Regions from separate parts of the Homo sapiens genome. Here region 2 is linked to region 1. Evidence: fine-mapped expression QTL. A gene starts in region 1. The other region holds a variant in brackets. All regions are shown on one strand. Distances are between the middles of the regions. Region 1 holds the start of GTF2F1 (general transcription factor IIF subunit 1). Region 2 overlaps CLPP (caseinolytic mitochondrial matrix peptidase proteolytic subunit).

Region 1 (3,012 bases):
CTCGTTCTTTTTTTTTCCTTCTTTTCCTTCTTTTTTTTTTTTTTTTTTTTTTGAGACGGAGTTTCGCTCTTGTTGCCCAGACTGGAGGGCAATGGCGCGATCTCGGCTCACCACAACCTCTGCCTCCCAGGTTCAAGCGATTCTCCTGTCTCAGCCTCCCGAGTAGCTGGGATTACAGGCATGTGCTACCACGCCCGGCTAATCTTGTATTTTTAGTAGAGACGGGGTTTCTCCACGTTGGTCAGGCTGGTCTCGAACTCTCAACCTCAGGTGATCCGCCCGCCTCGGCCTCCCAAAGTGCTGGGATTACAGGCATGAGCCACCGTGCCCAGCCGTTTACTCGTTCTTGTCTCCCCCAAGCCAGACACTCCATGAGGGCAAGGACTATTTCTGCCTCCCTCATTCCTATATTCCTAGGGGTTGGCGGTTCCTGACATTTAGTGGTGGATGAGAAATAAATGAAAACAGACACATCGACGGTGTCTGTAGTTCATGGCCCAACTTTTGTGTCTTGCCCGCCTTCCCTTTGCTTAGCCAACTCCTATGCATCCCTCAGTGCCCAACTGAAACCTCCCCTCTTCTCTGAGCCCTCAGAGCCCCGCTGTGCTTCTCCTGCTCCTTCCTGGGTTGTAGATTCCCATGCTGTGACTCTGTCTCTTCCACGACACTGTAACCCTCGAGAGGACACTGTAATCCTCCGTGGGGAGCTGGTTTGACAGATTCACCTTGCGGGGCCCCGAACCCAGGAGGTGCTGGAGTATTTGCGAAGTGGAGCAATGAATGGTTGCGCCGTGAGCATGCGCAGTTGTGTTACTGCCATGATTCGGGGGATGTGTGCATGCCTGGAACGGGGTAGGGGATCCTGCATCTCCCTCCTGTTCTCGGCAGCTTCCTTCCCTTCCCCCCAGGAAGCCAGCCAGCCGCCCCCGCGACGTTACCCTTCTCCTGGGGCCTCAGAGCCCTGCCCATCTCGGGCAGCTTGGACTTGCAAAGACCCATCCGGCCAGCAGCTCTTGGGGTGGTCGCGCCCCGACCCCGCCCAGGCTCTGACCCCTCCTGGCTCGGCTCAACGTCACAAGGGTCCCCGCCCCGGTCATTTTGCGGGAATGACGGGGTCCACCCCTTCGGGGTAGGGGGAGGAAATGAACCCCAAACAGACCCATGGGGAGCCAAGCGGCGGTTCGACCCGACCCGAGTAGGCCTCGGTTGCTATGGTGACGCGGCCTTCTGGGCCCCCCAGGTCCAGAGCGGCAAGGCGCATGCGCAAAGTGCCTGGGAGCCCGCAAGGGGGATTCGTCTCCCTCTTCCCACCCAGGATGCCCCACGGTCCTTGGGTGCTGACGTCACGAGAGAGGGCGGTCCCCCATTTGATGAAGTTAACCGCGTTATATACAAGAGCGCCAGCGACAGAGGCCCGTTAGTTTATCTCAGACTCGGCCTAGGTTTGCTGAGTCTAAAAAGGGACCGCGGTGGACCTTTTGAGGTGACCATAGCCGCCGAGGAGCATAAGTGACTGCGCACTGAGGTGGCCACAGTCGCTAAGAAGGTTGCCATCGCGACGCGGCTGCTCGAGGGTTTCGCTTCCGGGTTAGGCGGCCGCAGAAGCGTAGACCGAGTAGCTTGAGCGCCTCTTCCGGTTACCTTTTCCCAGCGCCAGAGGCGCCTAGGGTTGGGGTCCTCGCTCAGGCACAGAGACCCGACACCGAGCGGCGGCTTCCCCGGGATCGAGGGACGCGCACGCCAGAGGAGACGAAAGGAACCCGGGTCGGACCAGATCGGAACCACTGACCATTGCCCATGGCGGCCCTAGTGAGTGTGGATTTGGCGGGGTTCGGGGGTTCCGACGGCGACCTCGGCGACCCCTCACTCACCGCTTCCTCTTTCCGCAGGGCCCTAGCAGCCAGAATGTCACTGAATACGTCGTTCGAGTTCCTAAGTAAGTCCCCAGCCCCATCTCCCACTCCTCTCCACCCCCCAAAAATGAAAACCTTCACGATCTTCTTAGCCAGCCATTTCTGGCCCTGTCTGTGGTTCTCCCTCCAGACCGGGAGAGACTTGGAGGGCAGGGCTGGGATTAAGCTGAGGCTTCTCTGGGGACAACACTGCTTTTTTGAACGAATGAATGAATGAGTGCATTAATACACGGTGATCCAGCCCCCTGGCCTAACCTTCGAGGAGTATATGGTCCCATGATGCCCAGGCCAGCTGTAAGGACATATTCCTCGTCCTGTTTCAAAGTGGTCAGGCTGTCTTTCCTTTCCAGGCCTTTGTACATCCTGTTCCTCTGCCATGAGTGCCTCCCCTCAACCCCTAAACTGTGACTCTGCTGGGTGAATTCTTGATGATTCTGCAAAACTCAACTCCAGTATCTTCCTCCTCCAGGAAATACTCCCTGCCTGTCCTCCCTCCTCCCCAAGGCTGAGTTCACAATAATCTCCACATCTTGGGTTCCCCCAAATCTTCGTCCCTCCATCTGCTCTTCTTCTGCCTGGGGTCAGGAGAGGATGGGTCTAGCTTCTCTGGCAGACTGGGAATCCTTGGAGTCTTCCGTATCCAGTGTTGCCAGGCAAAACAGGCTGAATGAAGCTGGGTGGGTTTGTTGAGTGAATTGAATTGAATTAATGATTCAATTGAATGGAATGATTGAATTGAATTAATGGTTCAATTGAATTGAGTGATTGAATTAAAGTAATGATTTGATTGAATTAACGATCCAGTTGGGTGGTTGATTGAATTAATGGTTCAATAGCATTGACTGATTAAATTAATGATTGAATTGCTGTATTGGATTGACACTACCTCTTCTCATCCACTCCAGGAATACAACCAAAAAATATAACATCATGGCTTTTAATGCAGCCGACAAAGTCAACTTTGCTACGTGGAATCAGGTAAGTCTCTGAGTCCTGGGGGTCAGGGGCTGGGGTGGTGAGAGAACTTGACCCTGACCTTGGTGGTTGTGATAGTTGCTTAACTGTCATAGTCACTAAGTCTTAATTTTCTCACTTTTCT
Region 2 (2,500 bases), 28 kb after region 1:
TGTGGCTTGGCCCTGAGGGACGTCCAAGGGAGTGAGGGGGTAAAGGTTGGTATCGGCGTCAGCCCCTCACAGGGAGGCTGGAGGTGGCACTCAGGAGCTTCCCTGGGCTTTGGGCTTCCGGTTTGAGGCTGGTGGGCTGGGGTTGTGTAAATCCCCCGATATCCTGCTTCAGTCTTGCCACTACCAGGAAGGCTTTCTGACTGGATTAAGTATATGTTATTTTCTGCATCTGAAGCCTTGCAGACTGGGAGGAACAGTGTCTCTCTGTCTCAGCATTAGCTAAGCCTTTTTTTTGTTTGTTTTTTGTTTTTTTTTTTTAGAGATGGGGTCTTGCTATGTTGCCCAGACTGGTCTCAAACTCCCGGCCTCAAGTGATCCTCCTGTCTCGGCCTCCCAAAGTGCTGGGATTACAGGCATGAGCCACCATGCCTGGCCGCCTTTTTTTTTTTTTGAGACAGGGTCTTCCTCTGTTGCTGGGGCTGGAATGCAGTGGTACAAGACAGCTCATTGCAGCCTTCACCTCACAGGCTCAAGCAATCCTCCCACCTCAGCCTCCTGAGTAGCTGGGACCAGAGGCAAGCATAACCATGCCCGAGTCATTTTAAATATTTGGTAGAGATGGGGTCTCACCATTGCCCAGGCTGGTCTTAAACTCTTGGCCTCAAGTGATCCTCCTGCCTTGGCCTCCCAAAGTGCTGGGATTACAGATGTGAGCCACTGTGCCCAGCTGAAGCTAATTCTCAAGAGACAGCAAACAACTCCTCAGTGCATTTTCTTTTTTTCCCTTTGTTGTTTTGAGACAGAGTCTTGCTCTGTCATCCAGGCTTGAGTGCAGTGGCGCAATCTCAGCTCACTTCCACCTCCTGGGTTCAAGTGATTCTCCTATCTCAGCCTCCCAAAACAGCTGGGATTATGGGCACGCACCACCATGCCCAGCTAATTTTTGTATTTTTAGTAGAGACGGGGTTTCATCATGTTGGCCAGGCTGGTTTAGAATTCCTGACCTCAAATGATCCACCTGCTCCAGCTTCCCAAAGTGTCAAGATTTACAGGCGTGAGCCACCATGCCTGGCCTTTTTTTTTTTTTTCTTTAATAGAGACAAGGTCTCATTATGTTCCCCTGGCTGGCCT[C/T]GAACTCCTGAGCTCACGTGATCCTCCCGCCTCTGTCTCCCGAAGTGCTAGGATTACAGGCGTGAGCCACCACACCCAGCCTGGCCTGCACATTTTAAGACATCCACTCCCGGCTGGCCCAGCGCGGTGGCTCACGCCTGTAATTCCAGCACTTTGGGAGGCCAATGTGGGCGGATCACGAGGTCAGGAGATCGAGACCATCCTGGCTAACATGGTGAAACCCCGTCTCCACTAAAAATACAAAAAGCCGAGCGTGGTGGCGGGCGCCTGTAGTCCCAGCTACTCAGGAGGCTCAGGCAGAAGAATGGCGTGAACCCAGGAGGCGGAGCTTGCAGTGAGCCGAGATCGCACCACTGCACTCCAGCCTGGGCGACAAAGTGAGACTCCATCTCAAAAAAAAAAAAAAACATCCCCTCCCACGCTTGACTTCCGCCCAGTCAGTCCTTCTGTCTAGACCCTGTCCTGATTCCCAACAGCAGCTCGCGTGTCTGGCACTCACCCGGGCGCCTCCTGAGGGCTGGTGGATCATGATACGGGAGTTGGGGAGCGAGTGGCGCATGCCTGGGGTGCCGGCGGCGAGAAGCAGGGAGCCCATGCTGGCGGCCTGGCCCACGCACCAGGTGCAGATCGGGTTGAGGATGTACTGCATCGTGTCGTAGATGGCCAGGCCCGCGGTCACCACACCACCTGTGGGCGGGGGAGCAAGTGAGGGGCTGGACCAGCTCCCCCCGACCCTTTCCCTATTCCATCTCCTAAACCTGGGGAGGGTGGAACAGATGCAGCCCCCCTCCTTTTTTAAAAATTAATATGACTGGGCGCTGTGGCTCATGCCTGCAATCCCAGCACTTTGGGAGGCTGAGGCAGGCGGATCACAAGGTCAGGAAATCAAGACCATCCTGGCTAACACAGTGAAACCCCGTCTCTACTAAATATACAAAAAATTAGCCGGGCGTGGTGGCGGGTGCCTGTAGTCCCAGCTATTCCGGAGGCTGAGGCAGCAGAATGGCGTGAACCCGGGAGGCGGAGGTTGCAGTGAGCCGAGATAGCGCCACCGCACTCCAGCCTGGGCGACAGAACGAGACTCCATCTCAAAAAAAAAAAAAAAAAATTAAGACTGGGTTTCACTGCTTTCACTATGTTGCCCAGGCTGATCTCGAACTCCTGGGCTCAAGCAATCCTCCCAAAGTGTTGGGATTACACGTGTGAGCCACCATGCCCAGCCAGAAGCAGCTATTTTTTTTTTTTTGAGACTGAGTCTCACTGTCACGTAGGCTGGAGTGCAGTAGCGCGATCTCAGCTCACTGCAACCTCCACCTCCCGGGTTTATGCAATTCTCCTGCCTCAGCCTCCCGAGTAGCTGGATTACAAG

Evidence for each region.
Region 2: its variant is fine-mapped to the expression of GTF2F1 in skeletal muscle (GTEx, PIP above 0.99).

What each region holds. Positions count from the first base shown.
Region 1 is chr19:6,391,781-6,394,792 of GRCh38, reverse strand. GTF2F1 (general transcription factor IIF subunit 1) reads left to right here and starts at 1,629. Exons shown (of 13, transcript NM_002096.3): 1 at 1,629-1,809; 2 at 1,890-1,936; 3 at 2,819-2,891. The coding sequence starts at 1,798. It overlaps MIR6790 (microRNA 6790), which reads left to right and starts at 1,810; the gene lies at 1,810-1,872. It also overlaps the pseudogene LOC390877.
Region 2 is chr19:6,363,770-6,366,269 of GRCh38, reverse strand. It overlaps CLPP (caseinolytic mitochondrial matrix peptidase proteolytic subunit), which reads right to left. Exons shown (of 6, transcript NM_006012.4): 4 at 1,631-1,818; 5 at 1-12. Among named protein-coding and RNA genes, the nearest start is that of CLPP, 3.5 kb to the right of the region's middle. The variant C/T (reference allele first, on the strand shown) is at 1,132.